2 separate regions of the Homo sapiens genome follow, and region 1 is linked to region 2. Evidence: fine-mapped expression QTL. A gene starts in region 2. The other region holds a variant in brackets. All regions are shown on one strand. Distances are from middle to middle.

What was found. PIP is the estimated chance that this variant, and not a neighbour inherited with it, causes the effect.
Region 1: its variant is fine-mapped to the expression of CMTM7 in whole blood (INTERVAL, PIP above 0.99).

What each region holds. Positions count from the first base shown.
Region 1 is chr3:32,458,366-32,469,461 of GRCh38, forward strand. No RefSeq gene overlaps it. Among named protein-coding and RNA genes, the nearest start is that of CMTM6, 39 kb to the right of the region's middle. RefSeq lists enhancers at 1-53, 1,650-2,360 and silencers at 2,752-3,046, 9,322-9,391, 9,982-10,091. The variant T/A (reference allele first, on the strand shown) is at 4,569.
Region 2 is chr3:32,384,100-32,399,808 of GRCh38, forward strand. CMTM7 (CKLF like MARVEL transmembrane domain containing 7) reads left to right here and starts at 7,754. Exons shown (of 5, transcript NM_138410.4): 1 at 7,754-7,966. The coding sequence starts at 7,808.

The DNA of each region.
Region 1 (11,096 bases), 72 kb after region 2:
GTATGATACAGATGAAACCCGAGGACATTATGCCAAGTGAAATAAGCCAGACATGGACAGACAGATACTGCGTGATTCCACTTACAGGAGGTACCTAGGGTGGTCAAAATCACGGAGACAAAATCTAGAAGGGCGGTTGCCAGGGCCAGGGGAAGGGGGAATGGGAGTTATTATTTAATGGGTACAGTTTCAGTTTGGGAAGATGAAAAATTCTGGAGATGGATGGCCATGGTGGTTCTGCAACAGTATGAATGAATGCACTTAATGCTACTGAACTGTACATCTAAAAATAGTTAAGATGGTCAATTTTATTTATTTTACCATAATTTTTTTTTTTCTTGAGACGGAGTCTTGCTCTGTCACCCAGGCTGGAGTGCAGTGGCGCGATCTAGGCTCACTGCAAGCTTTGCCTCCCAGGTTCAAGCCATTCTCCTGCCTCAGCCTCCTGAGTAGCTGGGACTACAGGCACCTGCCACCACGCCCAACTAATTTTTTTTGTATTTTTAGTAGAGACGGGGTTTCACCATGTTAGCCAGGATGGTCTCGATCTCCTGACCTCGTGATCCACGCGCCTCGGCTTCCCAAAGTGCTGGGATTACAGGCGTGAGCCACCGCGCCTGGCCACCATAATTTTTTAAAAAGCAATTCAGGGCCAGGTTCAGCAGTTCATGCCTATAATCTCAGCACTTTGCGGGGCTGAGGCAGGCAGATCACCTGAGGTCGGGAGTTCAAGACCAGCCTGGCCAACATGGTGAAACCCCATCTGTACTAAAAACACAAAAATTAACTGGGCATGGTGGCGCACGCCTGTAGTCCCAGCTACTCAGGAGGCTGAGGCACGAGAATTCCTTGATCCTGGGAGGTGGAGGTTGCAGTAAGCCAAGATCACAGCACCACACTCCAGCCTGGACAACAGAGCAAGATTCTGTCTAAAAAAAAAAAAAAAGAAAAAAAAGAAAAGAAAAAGTCAATTCAGGACCTATGTCTAGGCACCTCAGTAGCTGAAAGAGCAAAAATTACACCAACCCAAAATGGCAACCCACAGCCCAACAGTGGCCACCCCATGTTCTAACAGCTAAGCATTATGGGTCCTGGAGAACACAGCTGTAGGGTATGTTTGTCTTCTCTAATCCAGGCTCTCTGGGAGCTGTTCAACCCAGGGGCCTTGTGGAACCCAAACTGTGTACCCACCACCCCTGCTCCCAGAGCAGTTACAGCCAGGTGGATCCAAGCAAAGATGTGAGAGGAGGGAAGGATGCACCCATGGGGGAGGAGCAGGGAGCCAGGGGAGCCATCCTGGCAACCTGAGGCCCCAGGAAAGGGTGTTGGCACCGGTGGCCGCAAGGGGCACTGGGAGATGAGGCCGACGGCCATCTGCTCACATCCCCCACCACAACCAGCCCGTTCCCTGGCCTTGCTCTTGGGGAGGTAGGGAGGAAGGCTGAGGGGGGGTGCCATCCCTTGGGCACACCTCTGCCAGGTTTTCTCATTACCCACAAGAGTGGCAGAAAACTGTTGCTCAGCCAGGCTCTGGAAGACTACAGCATCTGTGGGGTTTTCTGTAATAGGGAGGCCCGTGGCAATAGAACCCCCAATCTTTGAGGACAGTGTAGCGGGGAGACCGGAGGAGAAAGCCAAGTGGAAGGGAGATTAGTGATGGAGCCCGGTGAAGACGCCCAGGCCTGGCTGTCTTCTGGGCGTGGCCTAGGACCACCCCACTGCGGGCTGCTGGGATGACAGGGCAGGGCCAGAGCTGGATGTCTGCAGACGGACCCAGAGGGAGAACAAGTGTGTTCCTGAAGGAGGCCCCCTTAACCCCGGCCTGAGGCACCCCCTGTGCCACTGCCCTGTGCTGAGCTCAGCCTGGCTTCCAGCCAGGCCACTGAAGAGGCCCCAGGTAGGGGAAGACAGACCCAGAGCTGGCCCATTCTCTGGGCCACCCACCTGCAAGCCTCTACACTAGCATGAAAAGCAAACTTCTGTTGCCATGGAAACACAGCAGGTCTTTGGGGCCCCTCCTCAGCAACCACCACTTCCCTCCTTTGTGGCAGTTTCTGAACTGCATCCTGTGAACTCTCAGAGGTGCTTCAGACTCACAGATACCCGATTTTATGAGTAAAATATATGCAAACACTTAAAACACTCTCCAGCCTTCAATAGCAAACACGGACACTGGGAGCCCCTCGGCCTCCATGCCGTCTGCCCAGGGTAACTCAGCTCGTGCAGCCGCCGTCAGTGCAAGGCCACCCAGAGTGTGAAGCAAGCTGCTAAAAACCCCGCCACCACCTCACTGGGCAAGCCTGGGCTCCTCCATCCTGCGCAACCCAGATGCAGCAGCAGAACAAATCTGACCGTGAAGCTGCAGCTGCAGTTATCTCCTTACTTATCCAAATTGTGGGCTTTCCAAATTAATCCCATTGTTCCTATGCACTGACTTTATAATAAGTAAATGTTATCAATGTAAATTAGTCATTGATATTCATACCATATTTCCCATTTGACATAATGGAGTTTCATGCATAATTTAGATTGAAAAGGGGGATTTCTCTCCTGAAAAAAAAGTGTGGAAACTTTCATGAGTGTCCGTGTGAAGAGACCACCAAACAGGCTTTGTGTGAGCAATAAAGCTTTTAATCACCTGAGTGCAGGCGGGCTGAGTCCGAAAAGAGTCAGCAAAGGGAGATAGGGGTGGGGCCGTTTTATAAGATTTGGGTAGTTAAAGGAAAATTACAGTCAAAGGGGGGTTGTTCTCTGATGGGCAGGAGTGGGGGTCACAAGGTGCTCAGTAGGGGAGCTTTTGAGCCAGGATGAGCCAGGAGAAGGAATTTCTCAAGATAATGTCATCAGTTAAGGCAGGAACAGGCCGTTTTCACTTTTGCGGTGGAATGTCATCAGTTAAGGCAGGAACAGGCCATTTTCACTTTTGTGGTGGAATGTCATCAGTTAAGGCAGGAACTGGCCATCTGGGATATGATGGCTTAGCTTGGGCTCAGAGGCCTGACATTCCTGTCTTCTTATATTAATAAGAAAAATAAAACGAAATAGTGGTAAAGTGTTGGGATGGCGAAAATTTTGGGGGATGGTATGGAGAGATAATGGGCTGCTTCGAGCGGGATTAGGGGTGGTGTGGGGACCTAGAGTGGGAGAGATTAAGCTGAAGGAAGATTTTGTGGTAAGGGGCGATATTGTGGGACTGTTAGAAGAAACATTTGTCATTTAGAATTATTGGTGATGGCCTGGATACAGTTTTGTATGAATTGGAAAACTAAACAGAATAAGAGAAGGAGAAAAACAGGTATTAAAGGTCTAAGAATTGGGAGGACCTAGGACATTTAATTAGAGAGTGCCTAAAGAGATTCAGCATAGTCCTGCCAGCAAAGATTATTTATTTACTTTAAGAGTTAAGAGTGGCAGTTTGGGGATAGCACCAGGAGATATCAGCTGTGATGGCTTGGAGAAACAGTGTAAACTGCCAGTGTAAACAAGAGCAGGGCATGTATGAGTAGTTGAGAACGGTGAATAGGAGTATGACTAGACAGAACATAGTAGGGATGACAAGTTTTTTGGGGCACAGTCTAAGTTGGTCTGGTGTCTGGAATGAGACTGGGGCCTAATAAAAAGGAGCGTCTAAACAGGAGCTTAAATGGGCTGTACTTTGTAGCATTCCGAGGACAAGCCTGAATTCTGAGAAGGGAAAGTGGTAAAAGTATGGTCTAGTCTTTTTTAAGTTGGTGGCTGAGCTTGGTGAGGTGTGTTTTTAAAAGACCTTTAGTCCGTTTACCTTTCCTGAAGACTGAGGACTGTAAGGGAGATAAAGGTTTCACTGAATACTAAGAGCCTGAAAAAATGCTTGGCTGATTTGACTAATAAAGGCCGGTCTGCTATCGGACTGTATAGAGGTGGGAAGGCTAAACCAAGGAATTATGTCTGACAGAAAGGAAGAAATGACCGCAGTGGCCTTCTCAGACCTTGTAGGAAAGGCCTCTACATATCCAGTGAAAGTGTCTACCTAGACTAAGAGATACTTTCGTTTTCTGACTCGGGGCATGTGAGTAAAGTCAACTTGCCAGTCCTGGGCAGGGACAAATCCTTGAGCTTGATGTGTAGGGAAGGGAGGGGGCCTGAACAATCCCTGAGGGGTAGTAGAATAGCAGATGGAACACTGAGAAGTGATCTCCTTGAGGATAGATTTCCAGGATGGAAAGGAAATGAGAGGTTCTAAGAGACGGGCTAGCGGCTTGTAACCTACATGGAAGAGGTTATGAAATGACGACAGAATAGAATGGGCCTGTGAGGCTGGAAGGAGATATTTTCCTTGGTCTAAGAACTATTTGCCTTGTGTGGGAAGAGATTGATAGGTGGAAGTTTCAGCAGGGGAGTAGGTGGGAGTGACTGAGGGGAAGGAGAAAAAGTGAAAGTGAGGGATATAAGTTGGAATGCTAGCTGCTTTTTTAGCTATCTTATCAGCATAAGCATTGTCCTGAGCGATGGGATCTGATGCCCTTTGATGGCCTTTGCAGTGAATGACTCTAGCTTCCTTTGGAAGTAAAGCAGCTTTGAGAAGCATT[T/A]TTATTAAAGAGGCATTAATGATAGAGGACATTTGTGTAGTGAGGAAACCTCTTGCATGGAGGTGCAGGATATGGAAGGCATATTTAGAGTCAGTATAAATATTGACATTTAGTCCTTTTGCAGGAGTGAGGGCTTGACTTAAGGCAATGAGTTCGGCTTGCTGAGAGGTAGTGGAGGGGGAAAGAGCGGTAGCCTCAATGATAGATGTGGAAGATACTATAGCATAGCCTGCCTTTGCTGGTGAGTGGAGATTAGGCTTGGTGGAACTGCCATCAATAAGCTAAGTGTGTTCAGGGTGAGGAACATGAAAGAAAGAAATGTGGGGAAATGGGGTGAACGTCAGGTGGATCAGAGAGAGGCAGTCATGAGGGTCAGGTGTGGTATCCGGAATAATGTGGGAGACTCAACAAAGAGTGAGTACAGCTGAAGGAGCCGGGAAGCAGACAGTATATGTGTCAGGTGTGAGGAAGAAAATAGATTTTGGAAGTTATGAGAACTGTAGAGAGTGAGTTGAGCATAGTTTGTGATTTTAAGGGCCTCTAAAAGTATTAGGGCAGTGGTAGCCGCCATACGCAGACTTGAGGGCTAGGCTAAAACAGTAAGGTCAAGTTGTTTGGATAAAAAGGCTACAGGGTGCGGTCCTGGTCCTTGTGTAAGAATTCTGACCGCACTAAGCATGCCTAGGAAGGAAAGGAGTTGTTGTTTTGTAAGGGATTGAGGTTTGGGAGATTAGTCAGATACGATCAGCAGGGAGAGCACGTGTGTTTTTATGAGAATTATGCCCAGATAGGTAACAGATGGGGATGAAATTTGGGCTTGACTGAAGTAATGGGACCTGTCTGTGAAGCCTTGCGGCAGTACAGCCCAGGTAATTTGCTGAGCCTAATGAGTGTCAGGGTCAGTCCAAGTGAAAGCGAAGAGAGGCTGGGATGAAGGGTGCAAAGGAATAGTAAAGAAAGCGTGTTTGAGATCCAGAACAGAATAATGGGTAGTAGAGGGAGATATTGAGGATAGGAGAGTATATGGGTTTGGCACCACAGGATGGGTAGGCAAAACAATTTGGTTGATAAGGCTCAGATCCTGAACTAACCTGTAAGGCTTGTCTGGTTCGAGGACAGGTGAAATGGGGGAATTGTAAGTAGAGTTTATAGGCTTTAAAAGGCCATGCTGTAGCAGGCGAGTGATAACAGGCTTTAATCTTTTTAAAGCATGCTGTGGGATGGGATATTGGCATTGAGCGGGGTAAGGGTGATTAGGTTTTAATGAGATGGTAAGGGGTCCATGATCGGTCACCAAGGAGGGAGTAGAGGTATATTATACTTGTGGGTTAAGGTGGGGGGATACAAGAGGAGGACGCAAAGGAGGCTTTGGATTGGGAAGAAGGGCAGCAATGAGATGTAGCCTTAGTCCAGGAATAGTCAGGGAAGCAGATAGTTTAGTTAAAGTGTCTCGGCCTAATAAGGGAACTGGGCAGGTGGGGATAACTAAAAAGGAGTGCTTAAAAGAGTATTGTCTAAGTTGGCACCAGATTTGAGGAGTTTTAAGAGGTTTAGAAGCTTGACTGTCAATACCTACAACAGTTATGGAGGCAAGAGAAACAGGCCCTTGAAAAGAAGGTAATGTGGAGTGGGTAGCCTCCGTATTAAGAAGGGGACGGACTTACTCTCCACTGTGAGAGTTACTTAGAGCGTCTGTGATGGTCCTGTAAGCTTCTGAGGCAATCAGGCGGTGTCAGTCTTCAGCTGCTAAGCCGAGAAGATCTGGGAAGGAGTCAGAGAGCCTTCAGCCAGAGTTCCAGGGGCTCTGGGAGTGGCTGCCAGGTGAGTTGAACAGTCCGATTTCCAGTGGGGTCCTGCACAGATGGGACACGGCTTAGGAGGAATCCTGGGCTGCGGGCATTCCTTGGCCTGGTGGCCAGATTTCTGGCACTTGTAGCAAGCTCCTGGGGGAGGCAGTTCTGGATGTACACCTAGCCACTGCGGTTCAGGCGTTTGGAAGTTCTTGTGTGCTGGAGATGTGGCTGGAGTTTGTCTCACAGTGGAGGCAAGGAATTGCAACTCGGAAATATGTTGCTACTTGGCTGCCTCTACTCTATTATTGTACACCTTGAAGGCAAGGTTAAGTAAGTCCTGTTGTGGGGTTTGAGGGCCGGAATTTAATTTTTGGAGCTTTATTTAATGTTGGGAGCAGATTGGGTAATACAATGTATATTGAGAATAAGACGGCCTTTTGACCTTTTAGGATCTAGGGCTATAAAGCATCTCAGGGTTGCTGCCGAACGAGCCATGAACTGGGCTGGGTTTTTATATTTGATGAAGAAGAGCCTAAACGCTCTCTGATTTGGGATAAAGAAAAAGGAGCATTAACCTTGACTATGCCTTTAGCTCCAGCCACTTTTCTAAGAGTAAATTGCTGGGCAGGTTGGGGAGGGCTAGTCACGGAACGAAACTATAAGCTGGACTGGGTGTGAGGAGGGGAGGGGATAAAAGGATTATAGGGTGGAGGAGCGGAGGCTGAGGAAGAATTGAGACCTCGCTTGGCCTGGTGAGGGGAGAGGTCAGATGGGTCTGTAGAAAAGGAAGATTAGACAGACTCAGCGACGCTTGGGGTTGGGACTGGGGACAGGTGGGAGGGAAAGAAGGAAGATTTGGGACGAGTCACATTGGGAACAGAGACTAGGGAGGGACCGATGTGTAAAAGAATGCCTGGACATCAGGCACCTCAGACCATTTGCCTATTTTACGACAAGAATTATTTAGATCTTGTAGGATGGAAAAATTGAAAGTGCCGTTTTCCGGCTATTTGGAACTACTGTCGAGTTTGTATTGGGGTCAAGCGGCATTGCAGAAGAAAATAAGGCATTTAGGTTTTAGGTCAGGAGTGAGTTGAAGAGGTTTTAAGTTCTTAAGAACACGGGCTAAGGGAGAAGAAGGAGGAATGGAAGGTGGAAGCTTGCCCATAGTGAAGGAGGCAAGCCCAGAGAAAGGAGAGTAGAGACACGGAGAAGGGGTGGGGGATTCTTACCCTCCAGAAAAGTGGAAAAGGGGTCAGGGCACGGAAAAAAGGGATGGGGCACAGAGATAAGAGGTTGGGGTTCTTGTCCCTCCTCCAGGAAAGTGGGACTTGCCTCAAAGGGTGAAGGACCAAGGCAGGCGTCCCTGCGTGGTCTGACACCTCTGAAACGTGGGTGAATAATCAGGCGTCCCTGCAATGATTAAACACCAAGGGAAGGCTGCCTTCCCAGTCCATGACCGGCGCCAGAGTTTTAGGTCCATAGATAAAACGTGTCTCCTTTGTCTCTACCAGAAAATGAAAAGAATTGAAATTAAGAGAAGGCAGAGATTGAAGTGTGGCATCAAGATTGAGAGGAGAAAGGTTGAGGAATAGTGAGGGAGGTTGGAGAAGAGAGTAAAAAGAGGCTGCTTACCTGATTTAAAATTGGTGAGATGTTCCTTGGGCTGGTGGGTCTGAGGACCTGAGGTCATAGGTGGATCTTTTTCACGGAGCAAAGAGCAGGAGGACAGGGGATTGATCTCCCAAGGGAGGTCCCCCGATCCGAGTCACAGCACCAAATTTCATGTGCGTCCGTGTGAAGAGACCACCAAACAGGCTTTGTGTGAGCAATAAAGCTTTTAATCACCTGGGTGCAGGCGGGCTGAGTCCGAAAAGGGAGTCAGCGAAGGAAGATGGGGTGGGGCCGTTTTATAAGATTTGGGTAGGTAAAGGAAAATTACAGTCAAAGGGGGGTTCTCTGGCGGGCAGGAGTGGGGGTCACAAGGTGCTCAGTAGGGGAGCTTTTGAGCCAGGATGAGCCAGGAGAAGGAATTTCTCAAGATAATATCATCAGTTAAGGCAGGAACAGGCCATTTTCACTTCTTTTGTGGTGGAATGTCATCAGTTAAGGCAGGAACTGGCCATCTGGATGTGTACGTGCAGGTCACAGGGGATATGATGGCTTAGCTTGGGCTTAGAGGCCTGACAGAAACCACTGACATAAAGGGAGATGCCAGGAACCACTGGGCACCAGGTGGATGGAAAGGGCCCAGGTTGGAGGAGGGCTGGGGAGACAACTGGTGGACTGTTTGGGTTTTATTGCCATATTCTGTGTACATAAAAAACAACATAGGCCGGGTGCGGTGGCTCACGCCTGTAATCTCAGCACTTTGGGAGGCTGAAGCGGGCAGATCACCTGAGGTCGGGAGTTCAAGACCTCAAGACCAGCCTGACCAACATGGTGAAACCCTGTCTCTACTAAAAATACAAAATTAGCTGGGCGTGGTAGTGCATGCCTGTAATCCCAGCTACTCGGGAGGCTGAGGCAGGAGAATCACTTGAACCCAGGAGGCGGAGAGGTTGTGATGAGGCGAGATTGCACCATTGCACTCCAGCCTGGGCAAAAAGAGCGAAACTCCTTCTCAAAAAAATAAAATAAAAATAAAATAAAAAATACTCCACGTAGAGTTATGCAAAAAAGGAAATGTTACCACAGCATGAAGTGTGCCGCTTGGCTCAGTTGTGAATAGTGATAACAGCCAGAATAATGGTCACGCGGAATACTGATTTAACCGAAACTGTGACAAACCTCATCAGCCGGGCAGGGATGCGTGTGGAGCGAGCCGCTGGCCAAGTGCTGCCAGATGCCCCAAGTGACCCAGAGAAATGGTCATCTGGATTTCCACGCTAAACATTTCCCGATTTTTAAATGCTGCCAAGTATCTTTTCAAAGATACACTTCAGGCCAAACACACCTGCTGGGGGCTAGCTGAAGCAGCCAGCCCCAGTTTGCGATCCTGCCCAGGAGGGCCCTCAAGCGCTTGCCCCAGGGTCTTGGCAGTTCTCCGGAAAGTCGGGGCCCCGCCGGTCTGGCAGATGCTTCCTAGCGAACCCAGGGGCAGCGCGCTGGGCGGAGGCCCTCCCTGGGGAGCCCCCGGGGTCCCCGGCCAACAGCTGTGCCTGCTGCCACACCTCCCAGCTGGACACAGCTCTCCTGTAGCGAAAACAAAACCCACCAAGCAGGTGGCTGCAGGAGCCCGCGCGCAACGCGCCCGCTCCTGGCCGCGCACGCCCCCTGGCGGCCATCGGGAAGCATCGCCGCCGCGTTCCTTGGGGAGAGCCACGCCTCTGGGAAAGCTAAGAACTGTTCACATTAGAAGCATCCACTTGCACGGTTTTTTTGTTGCTGTTTTTTGGGGGGTTTTGTTGTTGTTGTTTTGTGGGTTTCTTTTTCTTTTTGAGACAGAGTCTAACTCTGTCACCCAGGCTGGAGTCCAGTGGCGGCACGATCTCGGCTCACTGCAACCTCCAACTCCCAGGTTCAAGCAATTCTCTTGCCTCAGCCTACCCAGTAGCTGGGATTACAGGCGCCCACCGCCACGCCCGGCTAATTTTTGTATTTTAGTAGAGACGGGGTTTCACCATGTTGGCCAGGCTGGTCTCAAACTCCTGACCTCATGATCCGCCCACCTCGGCCTCTCAAAGTGCTAGGATTACAGGCGTGAGCCACCGCGCCCGGCCTGCACGTTTTATTTGAACCTCAGGTACACAGATTAATCATCATCCTGAGTTCATAACACTCTTACACTCTAATCATGGTCCATGCATGGCCTCCTTCCTCCCTCCTTCCCTATTTTTTGTTTATAGTCAGCACTGAAGCTAGTCGTGACAACCTGCATTCAACTGTAACAATATGCTTCTTCAGTTCATCACCCTCCCATCTTTTTCCTCCCAAGGTAACCTCCCAAATCCCCCATTGATCACGGGCTTGCATTTCTTGTAATCTTGGTAGTTTATAATTAAATGGAAAAGATACCACACTGTATGTAATCTTTCAGGACTTTATTCACTTACCATTATGCAACATGTTACATCCTCTTGGCCTCACCTATCCCTTGATCCAGCCACCACTGCAGTGCTAGCCCTGCAAGGCCTACGACCATGTCATGCCAGCATAACCTGATAGCTGTGATTTGGGCCTTCAACTGTCACCTTGGCGCTTTCCTGTGGACACTGCCATGGGACCTGCTCAGCGGCCACACAGTGCAACTTGCAAGTGCTGCAGGGGAATTCACTCCCTGTGAGGTAACACTGACCAATGGGACACAGGAACCAGTGCGTGCATTCTTCCTCCTCCTCTCCTGGACCAGACCACCCTGAGGCACATTTTACACAGCTTCTCAGAGGACAGTCCTGTGGAATCGAGCAACCAATCACACAGTGGTGGCTAACTCAGTAATATCCTCATATTGGCTCACTCTCCTTCCCTGGTTCACTCATGATGATGGCTCAGCGGGCCACGTGGATACAAGCTGAAAATGTGTGCTGGCTGCACTAATAGTGTTATTTCAGGGGTAGCCTTGAAAGACAGCAGTGAAAGGAAACACTCCCAATGGGCAAAGCTCTGGGCAGTGCATCTGATCATCCGCTGGAAAGAAAATATACAGACTCAGGGAGTGGTGAACGGCTTGGCTGATTGGCCAGGGGACTGGAAAGAGAAAGACCGCAAGGCCCCAGAGGGATGAGTGAGACAA
Region 2 (15,709 bases):
AGCCTTCCCTGACTTCCCCATCACATCCCTGACAGGGTAAGGTATCTCCCCATGGGCTCCCATAGTACCCCACTTTTATTCTATCATTAGCATTTTTCATACATATTGCCTGTTTTCTCAGTCTGGGCAAAGAACATGTACTCCTGTGCCTGACACAGGTCCTGGCACTTTGTCAGTGCTCAATAAATATTGCCATGGGGATTGCTCATCACTCACAGAAGGCTTCTCAGAGGCCGTAACATTTTGGCTGGACTTTGTGAGACTGGCGGGCATTTGCCAGGTTAGCAGTTTTCAACCAGGGTCATATACGCATCGAAATCACCCGCGCAACTCTTCCCAAACATGGATGTCCAGCCCCGCCTGAGCACACTGAATCAGAATCTCCAAGGCTGAGCCTGGGCAGGTATAGTTTTCATAGGTTTCACAGGTGATTGCAAATGACAGCATGGGCTAAGGAAAGATAAAAAAGAGATCTCATTATCATCATCATACTCATCATCTTACTGTCAGCAACAGTTCTCAGCATTTGACATATCTTAACCCCTTTGATCCTCACAGTGTTCATTGTCTACATAAAGCACAAATCCTAAGGTGGGCATCCACAGTCCTGTGGTATCTCTCCAGCCAAGGTCCCCAGCCCTTTTCCCCAAGTCCCCACACTCCAGCCACGCCAAAGGACTGGGAATTCCTGGAATCCGTGGTGCGGTTTCATGCCTCCTTTCTTGACATATGTCATTCCCTCTTTTGCCCACCCCATAAATTTTTAATCGCCCTTCAAGACCTAGTTCCAAGCACATATTCTTTTTTGAAACTTTCTCCTCCCAGTTCAAGACAAGCTGGTTACTCCCAGCTTTGGGCCATCCCTTACAGGGATGCTACAGCTCTGCATTAATCCCACAAATATAAACTGAGTACTACTTTGGGCCAGGCACTCTGCTAAATACTGGACACAAACAGGGAGCCGTCTAACCCAGACCTCGACTCCTCCCAACAGAGATGACAGAGATGACGACCACAGCCTCCTCGGTTATCTGACTCTATTTCCCTGTGTTGCTATGGTTACAAACTCCCTGGGGGAGGGAGTTCCTCTTCTGGGAAGTGTTCAGTCAGGCATGTGGAAGGCTCTCCGTAACATTTGCTGAGTGAGGGTTGTGAGCAAATAACAAGGTGAATCCTCCTCTCCTCCCTTCCTCTCTCAGTAAAACTTTTCCCCAGCAGCTCTCAAAATTCCTTGGATTACCTAAATCCAAGAAATCTTTTATTTCACCCTTGAAGATGGTCTTTGATGCTTATGGTTATGGAAATGGCAACGTACAGGAGTCCCTCAGCCCTCAGATAATGAAGCCTCATTGTTCGATACATAAGGACTTAGGAAAAATGATAAAATAGGTAACATTTACTACTATGAGCCAGATGCTACTCTAGACCGTTTCCATATGTCTTATCCCATTTAGATCTCGCAGTTACCCTGAGGGGTCATTTCTATTGTTGTTCCTCTTTACAGAGAAGGAAATGGAGGCTGAGAGAGGCTTGCCCAAGGTTGCACATCTAGCAAGTGATGGAACTAAGGGCCAAACCCAGGCAGTTTGGTTCCAGAGTCCTGCCTCTCAGCCACACAGCCAGGCAGCACAAAGACAAAGGTTTCAGGGTCCCACCTGGCGCTAAAGACCAGGTATCCTGGCTGGCCCCGCTGTGGTGAGTACATGCCGCTCTCCCTCTGCTGGGCCTCAGCCACTCTCTTCTGCTCTGCCTCTCCTTATTTCCTCTCATGGCCCAACCAGCCTCCTGGCTTCCACCTTCTCTCTATGTCCCAATTGCTAAACCCCTCTCAATGCCTCACATTCAAACTCCGCAGGACAGAGGATCATCAGTGGAGCTCCCACTCTTACTAGGCAAAGTTCCCTTATAAGGCCACTCCAAACACTACTGGCCAACCCACTGATGGGCTGCCCTTGGCTCAGGAGCCAGCCTGATGCAATAAATTTCCAATGGATATAAGGCAGCTGATTGGTGATTCTCAGAAGGACCTGAGAGTTTGACTGGTTTACGGAACCTAATAAACTTTTTAAAAATTCACTGGAGGCCAGGCGCGGTGGCTCACACCTGTAATCCCAGCACTTTGGGAGGCCGAGGCGGACGGATCACAAGGTCAGGAGATTGAGACCATCCTGGCTAACACGGTGAAACCCCGTCTCTACTAAAAATTCAAAAAATTAGCTGGGCATGGTGTCGGGTGCCTGTAGTCCCAGCTACTCAGGAGGCTGAGGCAGGAGAATGGCATGAACCCAGGAGGCGGAGCTTGCAGTGAGGCGAGATCGCGCCACTGCACTCCAGCTTGGGCGACAGAGTGAGACTCCATCTCAAAAATAAATAAATAAATAAATAAATAAATAAATAAATAAACAAACAAATAAAGAAATTCACTGGAAAAGGATTTTAAAGGCTGATATTGGAAGAGTTTCATGGACACCTGATGCCTTTGTCTGCCTGGCATAGCTCAGACTTCCTAACAAAATGCCATGGCCAGGTGGCTTAAACACCAGAAATTTATTTTCTCAGAGTTCTAGAGTCTGGGGAGTACAAGATCAAGGTGCTGATCGATTTGGTTCCTGTTGAGGGCTCTCTTCCTAGCTTGCAGAAAGCTACCTTCTCGTTGTATTCTCACATGGTGGAGAGAATGCCAGCAGGTTCTCTGGTGTCTTTTTTATAAGGACACCAATCCCCCCCTGAGGGCCCCACCCTCATGATCTCACCTAAGTCTAACTATTGCCCACAGGCCCCATCTCCAAATGTCATCACATTGGGCGTTAAGTCTTCAACTTTTAAATGATGGGGGGACACAAACATTCAGTGCATAACACTGCCTAATATTCACTCCGCTTTCTGATACTCGCACCCTGGTTTTCCTTTTGGGAACCACCCCTTCCTCACTCAGCTCCTGTGGTTCTACTGGGCTGAACCTATCCCACCCCCAGCTTCATGGGTAGGTAGAACTTGACCTGGCCACCAAAAATGTTCCACTCCTCTGGCCATAGTAATTCGTTGAAAGATGGAACCATGACCCATATTTGGACTAATGAGAGATAGTGCCTATTATGGACTGAATTGTGTGTCCTCCCTGCCCCAAATACATAGGTGGCAGCCTTACCCCCAAGTGTGACTGTATTTGGAGATGGACTCTTTGGGGAGATAATATGGTTAAATGAGGTCATAAGAGTGGGGCCAGAATCCAATAGGACTGGTGTCCCTTTAGGAAGAGACACCAGAGATCTCTCTCTCTCTTTCCATGTACACAGAGAAAAGGCCATGTGTGGACACAGCAAGAAGGTGGCCATCTAAAGTCATGAAGAGAGGCCTCACCAGAAACCAGCCCTGATGGCAACTGGATTTTGAACTTCTAGTCTCCAGAATTGTGAGAAGTGAATTCTTGTTGAGAAGCCACCCAGTATGTGATATTTTGTTATGGCAGCCTAAGACAGTACCAGAGCCACTGGAAAAGACAGGCTGAAATAACGAAGGCAGGATTATTGTGTAAGCCTGAGCTGTCAGAGCTCATGAGAGGGCCTGCCTGAAAAGCCAACACAGAGCAGAGTGAAGCCAGGAGATGGAGGTCCTGACTGTGCCTGAGGAGCACCTGGATCCAGCCATGCCTGAAGTGGGTGTATACCTCTGCATATCACAGTTACTCAAGCCAATGAATTATTTTGTTTTGCTTTTTATTAGTTTGTTTGTTTGTTTTTGAGACAAGGTCTCACTCTGTTGCCCAGGCTGGAGTGTAGTGGCACGATTATGGCTCACTGTAACATTGAACTCTTGGGCTCAAGTGATCTTCCCCCCGCTCAGCTTCTTAAGTTGCTTGGACTACACATCTGGCCAATTTTTTCATTTTTTGTAGAGATGGGGGTCTCACTATGCTGCCCAGGCTGGTCACAAAATCCTGGCCTCAAATGATCCTCCTGCCTCGGCCTTCCAAAATATTGGGATTATAGGCATGAGCCACCGTGCCAAGCCTATTTTGTTTTTTGTTTTGTTTTGTTTTTAAAGACAGGGTCTTGCTATGTTGCCCAGGCTGGCCTGGAACTTCAGGGCTCAAGAAATCTTCCTACCCCAGTCTCCTGAGTAGCTGGGACTACAGGCATGCACCACTGCTCCCAGCTTGAATGAACTCTTCTTTTTGCTTGATTTTAGTTTGTCTCATCAAAAGCACTGTGACTAATACAGAGTCAACTCTAATTTTATTACTTTTTTCATTATATCTGATCAGATATAACATCATAAACACACTGGTGAAGAAGAGTTATAGTCAGAGTACCACTCGAATTGAAGCTTTAAACTGTCAATAAGCCACCTGCAATCCCTCGGTGTAGAGAAAAGGAGAACTTGGACATCTTGATTTCTCACCAGGTATTCAGAGGTCACCTACCTGGTTGGTTCCCTCTTAGAGTGTGACATCTTTAAAGTGGGCTATGAAGCCCTTTGCCTAAGACCTTGCTTTCCCAAGGGGCAGCTATTCACATCTAGCAGACAACACACTAGTGTAGACATCTCAGTGCACTTGGCAAGCCTCTGAAGCCTCTTCTTGTAAGTCAGGCCAGCAATGGCCCTTGCACTGGCAAGCATCTTGCTCAAGCTCTTAAGTGATCATAATAAAGTGATTAACACAGAGTGCCCAGCACAGTGATTACTTCTGATTAGAGGTGGGTGGTGCATTAGTCAACACCAGGCAGAAAAGCCCAGCAATGTTTCTGAGCAGACTCAGGAAGAGATAGTTGTTCTCAAACTTGAGTATGCATCAGAATCACAGAATGATGGTGAAGGGGGGTGGGGAGTGAGGGTGGGGTTGGGAAGACTTGTTAAGACACACACTGCTGAGCCCTACCCCTAGAGTTTCTGATTCAGCAGGTCAGAGTGGGCCCCTAGAATCTGCATTTCTCACAAGTTCGCAGGTACTGCTGGTTGGGGGGCTATACACTGAAAATCACTGTTAGAAGACTGCTGAATTGGACAAAGGCCCCTCAAAGGAGAAATGATCCAGCACTTGGTTTTTCTGCTTCCCTGAAACCCTCATCTCAACAAAGATGCCCTGTTATCTCCACTGTGGGTCCTGAAGCCTTAGACAAGTACAGAAGTGAAATGTACATCTACATAAAAAAATGATACACAGTACTAACTTCATGCCTGTGGGTATAGAGCCAGAAATGTCACAGCACACCTGCATATCTATCACATTGTCACAGCAGCCCCTAGATGCAATTATTCCTGAATTACAGAGAAACAAATGGAGGTACCAGGCAGCTGTGACTGTTGTCTACAGAGAAGACACACGTGGAAGGCAATTTTTCTTGGTCATGAAAATTGTCAAATGTACATAAAGGTGAAATAAATAGTGTAATAAATCCCCAAATGTTTCAACTGCAGTGGACTCTGGCAATGACAGTGGTTCTCAAATTTGAGTGTGCATCAGAATCACCTAAGAGACTTGCCAAAACAGATATTGCATGGGTATCATCCACCAACAAGAATTATTAGGACTTTGCCACATCGAAAACTCTTCTGATGACAAGACAGCACTGGCAGGGAATAAACTCACAAAGATAGTTTTATGTTTCACTTTGCTTTGTTTTGTTCTTGAGGCAGGGTCTTGCTCTGTCACCCAGCCTGGAGTACAGTGTTGTAATCATGACTCACTGCAGCTTCAACCTCCCGGGCTCAAGCAATCCTCCCACCTCAGCCTCCTGAGTAGCTGGGACTACAGGCATGTGCCACCATGCCCAGTTAATTTTTGTATTTTTTTGTAGAGATGGGGTTTCTCCATGTTGCCCTTGCTGGTGTCAAACTTGGGCTTGTGAGCTTGATTTTGGGATTACAGACATGAGCCACCGTGCCCAGCCAGATTTTTTGATGTTATCTCCAAATGAATAAATGTAAGTATGGCCACAGGGACACTGCTCAAAAGGAACATGATAACATACCTCGTTTTGGTAGTCCCGTTTGGGCCTGTCTTCATTTTTATGTTTTTTTCCTTTTCTTTTTCTTTTTCTTTTTTTAAGAGACAGTGTCTCACTCTGTCACCCAGACAAGAGTGCGGTGGCAAGATCATAGCTCACTGCAATCTCGGACTCCTGGCCTCCAGGGATCTTCATGCCTTGACTTCCCAAAGTGCTGGGATTATAGGTGTGAGCCACCACGCCTGGCCTCTTCATTTTTAAAACAACCCAAAAGGGATACAGAATAGAATGTCACTTGGATAGCTGTTTGACAGCTTTTTCTTTTTCTTGTCTTTTTTTTTTTTTTTAATTGAGACAAGGTCTTGCTCTGTGGCCCAGGCTGGAGTGCAATGCCACTGTCATGGCTCACTGCAGCCTCAACCTCCTGGGCTCCAAGGCTCCTCCAGACTCAGCCTCCTGAACAGGCATGTGCCACTGCACCCAGCTAATTTATTTATTTATTTATTTTTATTTTTATTTTTATTTTGAGACAGAGTCTCGCTCTGTCGCCCAGGCTCGAATGCAGTGGCGCAAGCTCTGCTCACTGCAAGCTCCGCCTCCCGGGTTCACGCCATTCTCAGCATCCCGAGTAGCTGTGACTGCAGGCGCCCGCCACCACGCCCAGCTAATTTTTTGTATTTTTAGTAGAGACGGGGTTTCACCGTGTTAGCCAGAATGGTCTCGATCTCCTGACCTCGTGATCCGCCCGCCTCGGCCTCCCAAAGTGCTGGAATTACAGGCGTGAGCCACCGCGCCCGGCCCAGCTAATTTATTTTTATTTTTTGTTTTTTGTAGAAATGAGGTCTGGCCATGTTCCCCAGGCTGACAGCTTCTAACAGAAGCAAACATATGCTCCCCTTGTAACCAGTGCGTTCACTTGCAGATATTTGTCCCAGAGAAATGAGAGTTTGTATCCACCAAAAAAACGTGTACCATAATAGTGACTATAGCCAGAAAAGAGATGAGGGAGGGGGGAAAGGCCGGAAGGAGGGAAGGAGGCAGGCAAGCAGGTAGGAAGGAAGCAAGCTTGGTGTCCATCAACTGGGTAAACGTTTAAAAAATACGGTATCTTTGCACAGTGGAGTACTACTCAGCAATAAAAAGGAAGGAACTGATATGAACTACTTATATTCCCAACAGGATGGATCTTCTAATTTGTTATGTTGAAGGAGAATATTCTGTATTACTTCAAGTTTATGAAGTCCAAGAACAGGCAAAATGAACCTACAGTGACAGAAAGCAGAATACACTGTAGTGGTTGCCTGAGGCTGGATAAGGATGGGGCCAGGGAAGGAAGGTAGGTCAGGAAGGCCCACCACGGAACTTTCTGGGGTGATGGGCACGTTCTATTTGTTGATCTGGGCGACGGTTACACAGGTGTACACATATATAAAAATTAGTGGAGCTGAACACGTAAGGTCTGGGCATCACACTTTATGTAAGTTAAACTTCAGTAAAGTGCTCTCAGCACACATCCGCAGCCGCACCCACACAAAATCCCAGGAGGCTCAGTACCAGCTGTGGTCCGGGCCTTGCCCACCTCGGAGAGGCCACGACCCAAGGCATCCGGTTTCCTCTCGCTCCAGTCTAACTTCCGCGCATCTACGAGGGCCGGGACTGCCGCTACCTTTCTGGAAGGCGCCGGCCGGCCAGTCACCGGAGGGATCCCGCCAGAGGCGGCTCCGCGTCTCCAGCAGCGGGGCAGGGACCCGGGCGCCCCGCCCTCGCCAGCGCCCGCCCCCGCCCGCCCCCGGCCCGCCCTCTGTATCTGGCCCCTGGGCAGCTGCCCGGGGAGGCGGCCAGCGAGCTGGGGCCGCGCAATGTCGCACGGAGCCGGGCTCGTCCGCACCACGTGCAGCAGCGGCAGCGCGCTCGGACCCGGGGCCGGCGCGGCCCAGCCCAGCGCGAGCCCCTTGGAGGGGCTGCTGGACCTCAGCTACCCCCGCACCCACGCGGCCCTGCTGAAAGTGGCGCAAATGGTAAGTGAGCGCGGGGCGCGAGGCCGAGGTTCTACAGGGCGTCCCGGGAAAGCAGGGGTCCGGGAGCGGACGCGCCGGGCGTCTGGACCCGGCCGGAGCCCAGGGAGCATCGCGCAGCGGGCGGGGCACCGCGTCGCTAAAGTTCGCGGCAGGCTTCCTCCGGGAAAGTTGCTGCCGCAGCCCCCGCGCTGGAGCTCAGTCCCCAGAGCCGCCCCGGCCCTTGCTCCCGCGGACCCAGGTCGCCAGGGTCGCAAGTTTCTCCGGCCACCCCCCTGCGAAGCCTGACCCGCCTACTGACTGAAACCACGGGCAAAGTTCCTTTTCGTCTTTCTTCCTCTTCTCTGGGCCGCGCCGCTTCGAACCCGAGCCGGGGGTGGAAGAGTCGCCCAGGCGGCGGCGCTGAGGGAGCGAAACCCGACCTCTTCCCCGTCCACGGCCTCCTCTTTCCTCCGAACCCAGCGCGGCAGGGCTTCCCTGCTCTGTGTGCAGTTTCGCTCGAAGGAGGAGGTCAGAGGGTCTTGTGTTCCATAGTGGGGAAAAAGAACTGGGACCGTTGAGACGGCCGTCCTGGTCCCCTGCGCCCTCAAGTTCCGAGGGAGGGCCCGGGTCTCAGGGGGCTCTGGAGGGCAGGGGGTCAGTTGGGAAAGGCCTGTTGTCAGGGGCTGGTACTCATGTAGGGGAGCCAGACTGTTGAATGGGAGTCACCCGTGGAGCCAGGCAGGATGAGTGTCTGGGCTTGGATTGTGACCAACTCAGCACAAGGGCCTCCTACCAGGGCAGACGTTGCCTGGCCGATTCTCTTGTTCCCCACTCTTTTCTTTTCTCCCCTCCCGTTTTTTTCTTCTTTAAAAGTTTGTAATCTGAAACAACTTTTCCGTTTGTATGATGTGTTTTGAAACTGGGTTGGGCTGTTTGTGAGTCTCCACCATTGTAATGTTTGCACCAAGAACGGTGGGGAGGGGAGCGGTAAGTTTCAAAAAGAGGTGTGGGGAAAGGAGTGTGGGGCTGGACAAGGTCACACACCCAGAAGCTGGGGCCTGCTAAGGTGGCCTGGCCCCAGGGGGTTGGGCACAGGACGTCTGTGCATCTATAGCACTGCCATTCCAGACACTGAGTGTGCATGAGGTGGCCCTCATGTCTTGCTTGGGCCAGACCTAAAGAGAAGGGGCGCTGAGTTCCTGCCTCCCTAAGAACGGTGTCTAGATAGACCAAAAACTAGGAAGAGCCATTTCAGCAACGTACAAAAAAATCTGGTGCTGAGCATTGTTGGGTTTGAGCAGGGCATTTTTTGGCCCAGGCTAAGAGATTTGATCAGCCAAATAGAAGAGACCAGCCCATCTCACCATCCTTAAAAGATGGGCTGGGGTGAGACATATCCTACCTGAGCATTGGAAGGGATGAGTTTGGTAGACAGAGAATGGGATCAGAAGCCTCCATCTTGGCCCCTGAGTTTGCTGGACAAAGATATTGTGGGATGAAAAGTCTTCTTGTTGGTCTATGAGTTTGGTACACAAACATAATGGAGATGAAACCTCGGCAACATAGCGAGACCCCATCTCTACAAAAAAAATTTTAAAACCTTGTGTGGTTGGCATGGGCCTCTAGTCCCAGTTACTTGGGAGGCTGAGGTGAGAGGATTGATTGAACTGAGAAGGTCAGTGAACTGTGCCACTGCACTAGTCTGCGTGACGGAGGGAGGCCTGTCTCAAAAAAAAAAAAAAAAAAAGGTACAAAGAAAAGGTAATGGAGATGAGAAGCCTTCATGTGGTCCATGATTTTGATGAATAAAGATACTGGGAGATGAGAAATCTCCATCTCATCTTAAGCTCCTCAGCTAGCCTCTGGCCTGTGGTCCTTGGGCCAATTTGCAAGTGGCAAGAGTGGGGCCTGTTGTTCCAAAAAAGAGAACAAAGACTTGAATAATTTCTTTATCTGGTTGCTTATTCTCTATGTGCTCCTCTTAAAACCATGCTGAGGAGTCTTACACCTGCCCTGGAGGATTCCCCATCACTGCTGCAGGCTTGTTTGATCAGACCCTCTGGGAGCAAAGTTGCCCTTGCAGGATGGCTGTATTAGTCCTAGTTAGGGCTATCTACTTGGGCCTCTTATCTAACTCCTCCCTATTTTCCCACTTCTCCTCTTTTCTAAGACTCTGCTTGGGCATTTGAGGTTCATTTGTCTTCTTTGCTGGAAAATGCTTGTTTAGCCAAGTTTTAACATTGGGGAAGGGCAGAAGCAGCTAAATTAATGCCACCCATTGGGGCTTTCTTTCTATGGGTCTCTCATTTTGACCATCAGTTTCTCAGTTTCATACTGAACAGGTTGACCCTTTTGTCCTCAGCTTCTCATGAAATGTTTTCATCATGATCTGATCAATAGATCTGCCAACACGTTGTCTTAAGAAATCATTGCAAAGGCTGTTCCACTGGAGAATGACTTCCCTTGTCTTGGCCTCTTCTGGGTCCACCATTACTAGAAAATGAGTTTCTGAGTGAATGTGTGTACTTGACATGTCATTTATACATGTGTAATTTTTATAATCCTCTGGCCATGATAATTCAGTTTCTTTGGTCTTCCTTTTTGGAGTAGAGACACAGTCACAGGTTTTGACTTTTGACTTTAAAGCACTCTTTTTTTTCTTTCTTTCTTGAGAGGGAGTCTTGCTCTGTCACCAGGCTGGAGTGCAGTGGAACGATCTCAGCTCACTGCAACCTCTGCCTCCCGAGTTCAATCAAATCTCCTGTCTCAGCCTCACGAGTAGCTGGGACTACAGGCACGTGCCACCACACCCAGCTAATTTTTGTATTTTTAGTAGAGATGGGGTTTCACCATGTTGGCCAGGATGGTCTTGATCTCTTGACCTCATGATCCGCCCCCGCCTCTGCCTCCCAAAGCGCTGGTATTACAGGTGTGAGCTGCCGCGCTCGGCTAAATGACTTTTTTTTTTTTGAGCGAGACAGAGAGGGTCTTGCTCTGTCACCCAGGCTGGAGGACAGTGGTGTTATCATGGCTTACTGCAGCCTTAACCTCCTGGGCTCGGCGATTGTCCCACCTCAGCCTCCCGAGTAGCTGGGACTATAGGCACCCACCACGATGCCCAGCTAAATTTTGTATTTTTTGATACAGACGGGGTTTTGCTATGTTGCCCAGACTGGTCTTGAACTTAGAGATTCAAGGGATCTGTCCACCTCGGCCTCCCCAAGTGCTGGGATTACAGGTGAGCCACTGCGCCTGCATGAGACTCTTTTTTTTAATAGCTATTTTTTTTTAGCCCTATTATTGTTCTAGTAATTACATACTATATACCATGTGTGTATAATCTCATTAAATGTTTCTAAGAATCCAGTGAAGTAACATGTTTGATAGATAAGGAAACGGGCTAAAGAGTTAAAGAGACACTAAAGTCACACAGCTCTTAGCAGTAGTGGTGGAACCGATCCAGGCCTAATGGCCTGATCTCCAAAACTCATAACTCTGGCAGAGTTGTTGCTTGTTAATAGTTCTAGGGATATAAAAGCCACAGTGAGATAACACTTCACACCCACGGAGATGACAACAATAGAAAACAACAAGTGATGAAGATGTGGAGGATGTGAAGAAATTGGAACTCTGATACAGTGCTGATGAGAATGCAAAATGGTACAGCCACTTTGGGAAACTGTGCAGTTTCTCAAAAGTTACCATGTGACCCAGCAATTCTACTCCCAGCTCTACCCAAGAAAATGAAAACAGATGTCCACATGAAGACTTACACATTCATATGTGTTCATAACAGCATTATTCATAATAACCAGAAAATGAAAACAACACAGTTGCCCATCAAATGATGAATGTATAAACAGCAACTAAAACTAAGTGCTACATTCATACAATTGAATATTATTCAGTCATAAAAAGGGAGAATGAAGTACTGATGCGTGTAACCATATAGATAACCATGAAAACACTAAGCTGTGAAAAAAAGCCAACCACAAAAGACCACATTATATGATTCCATTTATATGAAATGTCCAGAATAGGCAAATGCGTAGACACAAAAATAGATTAGTGGTTGCCTAGGTCAGGGAGCAGGGGTTGAAAGGAAATGGGACGTGACTGCTGTAAGGGGTATGGGGTTTCTTTAGGGGGTGATGAAAATGTTCAAAAAATTGGTGATGGTGCCAGGTGCGGTGGGTCATGCCTGTAATCCCAGCACTTTGGGAGGCTGAGGTGGGTGGATCACCTGAGGTCAGGAGTTCGAGACCAGCCTGGCCAATATGGTGAAGCCCTGTCTCTACTAAAAAATACAAAAATTAGCTGGATGTGGTGGCAGGTGCCTGTAATCCCAGCTACTGGGGAAGCTGAGGCAGGAGAATTGCTTGAATCCAGGAGGCAGAGGTTGCAGTGAGCTGAGATTGCGTGACTGTACTCTAACCTGGGTGACACAGCGAGACTCCGTCACAAAAACAACAACAACAACAACAAAATTGGTGATGGTGATGTTGCACAACTCTGTGAATATATTAAAAACCACCGAGATTTATACTTTAAATAAGTAACTGGTTGGTATGTAATTATGTAAGTAGACCTGTGGATGAGTGTGAGGGGGCAAGGTGCTCTGCATGCAGCCACTGGGTGTGGGGAGGCTACAGCTACACTTCAGGAAATCCCTGTGGTGTTCCCACCACATCCACTCCTAGAAGAAGGAGTGTCCCCTGCAGGAGTCACAAAAGCTGGGCTGAAAGGCATCCCCTGAGTGCCTGAAGGGTCTGAGCTGAAAGGGATGCCCTGGGGTCTGAAGGGGTCTAGATATCCTTGCTGTGGGATTAAGGAGACCCCAGGATGGGGCTTGTGGCCCTACCAACACGTCCTATCTATTTGTTCATTCAGCAGACATTTATAACTGCCACATTCATCTCCATTTGTGCAGAATCAGATGACTGTGACAAAGTTCTTGCCCTCAAGTAATCTGTGGTTCAGCTTGTCATGGGAAGAGGGGTCTTGTCCCAGACCCCAAGAGACAGTTCTTGGATCTCGTGCAGAAAAAACTTCAGGGCAAGTTGTAGAGTATAGTGAAGTCAAAGTAGTTTACTAGACGCCACTCAATTACAGAGTAGAGACTCTTCAGAAAGCAAGAGGAGGAACGCACCCATTGCAAATACAATGCTTGCTTATATAGGTTATTAAAAATAGTGTACTTTATTACAAAAGCTTGCGATCAGCTTGTGACAAGCTATTAATATTGTTACTTTCCTATGTGATTATTGATTTTAGCAAGAACTTATGAGTGTACCATTATTTTAAAAGCAGAACCTATTCTTAAACTAAGAATACTTTTTCTTCTTGAAGAACTGGGACATTTCCGTAAGTTCTGGGTCTTTATTTAGTTAGTTAATATTATTAACTCGGGCCGGGTGTGGTGGCTCACGCCTGTAATCCCAGCACTTTGGGAGGCTGAGGTGGGCGGATCACGAGGTCAGGAGATCGAGACCATCCTGGCTAACATGGTGAAACCCCATCTCTACTAAAAATACAAAATATTAGCCAGGCGTGGTGGCACACGCCTGTAGTCCCAGCTACTCGGGAGGCTGAGGCAGGGGAATCTCTTGAACCCGGGAGGCAGAGGTTGCGGTGAGCCGAGATCGCAGCATTGCACTCCAGCCTGGCAACAAAGTGAGACTCTGTCTCAAAAAAAAAAAAAAATTATTAACTCATTCCCTCAACCATAAACATCATGTGACCAAGACTGCCCAACCCCCTGGGAATGTAATCCAGCAGATTTGGCTTTCTCTCGGCCTTTATTCAAGATGGAGTCACTCTGGTTAGGATGCCTCTGACAAGCTGAGGGGATGAACAAGTACCAAAATTGGCTGCTCAGGAAGGTAAACGTTCTGATAGTTGCCCACCTTATGGAAGAGGATCAGAGGGCAAAGGTGATATTTAAATTGCATCTTGACAGATGAGTGTAAGTTTTCAGGTTGGGAGTGGCTCATTTACCCCTTTGGTGCCTTTATTCAATATATGTTTAAGTTAGAGATAAGTGGTATGTTAGGGTTGGGAAGGAAAAAGATGTAGCAAGAAATGAGCCAGAATTGGGGTAATTATCTTAATCTTCCCACCCCAGACATTTAGAAATGGGTGCCATCTTATCCACTGAGCATCTGCTATGCTGTTAATCTTACGCTATGTGAAATACAGCTATTAACAGGATAGACTCTTTCTGCCTGTGCAGAAAAACAGACTGTGACGTTTACATAACCATAACATGGACAGAGAATCAGAATGTATTTCACAAGCGGCAATGATGGAAATCTAAATATCTTCTGGGAGGTTCATTTATTTATTTGGCAAATATTTGTTGATCACCTACTGTGATCAGCTAACTAGTAGGTGATCACGACTGTGTGCTAGGGAACTGTGGAAAGAAGACAGATGAGCCCCTGCCTCTTTATACTCAAATAGAGAAAATAAACATTAATCAAAATGGTTATGAATATGTAATTACAAACAGGTTCGAAATTATGAAGGAGAAGTACTCAGTGGTATAGAGCATATACTAGGGAGTGTGACCTTTTGGGGATTAGGAAGGGTGTTTCTGAGGAAGGGACATCTGATGTGAGCATGAGGAAATTGCATCACAAGCAGAAGAAAGAGCGTTGGCCGGCGCAGTGGCTCATGCCTGTAATCTCAGCAGTTTGGGAGGCCGAGGCGGGCGGATGGCTTGAGCCCAGGAGTTTGAGACCATCCTGGGCAACATGGTGAAACCCGGTCTCTACAAAAAAATACAAAAATTAGATGGGTGTGGTAGCACGTGCCTGTAGTCCCAGCTACTCGGGAGGTTGAGATGGGAGGATCTCTTGGAGGTCTAGGCTGCAGTGAGTGGTGATCGCCACGGCACTCCATACAGCCTAGGTGACAGAACAAGACCCTGTCCTCCCATCCCCCCAAAAAGAAAAGAAAGAGCACGGACCCTGGCTGTTAGTGGAGGGAGGAGTATCTCTAGGGCTGGAGGGGAGAGAACAGGGTGGGAGTATTGGGGATGAGACTGGAGGTATGCAGGGACCAGACTCCAGGGTCTGCCAAATCTTGGTGAATATATAGTCCTTAGTCTAAGAAAAATCAGCAAAGCATCATATCAACTCACCATTCATGAGGTGACTCTTAACTAGGGGCTGTACCGCCCCCTAGGGGTTATTTTGGAATTTTATGGAACCTTTTGTTTTTTTTTTTTTTTGGTTGTCACAGGGATTAGGGTTATATTACATATACATCTTATTCATTTCAGAATAGTAATGCAAACTGGAATTTTGACAGTGCAATTTTGACAGTGCAAAATACTTTATATCCTAAAAGGATGTTTTGTCTGAAATAAGATTGAAGGAGCCTTCCCAGACTGGGTGCTGGGGGGAGTACACTAAGGTTTCTTGGCAGGAGAGCGGGTCCTGGAGACCCTCTAAGAGGCCTGGGCAATTCCAGGCTTCACTTTGAGAATTCACAGGTTAGGTGCCAAGTGGAATTCAGCTGTGGGGGATGTCAGCCTCTGGTCTAGCTGTGAATAGACCTGTTAGCACAGAATAGCCCAGCATCATCCAGAAGGGCCCATCCCTTTATGTTCTGCTTTAGATGTGTATGGCGGAGGGCGAGGAGGGGGTCTAGTTTGGTTCCCAAGTGCAGTCTGCACACCCATGTCCTACTTCCTGGAAGTTGGAGAGTAAAAAGCAGCAAAGAACCTCACTGCCAAGATTCTTTGACCTCAGCCCATTC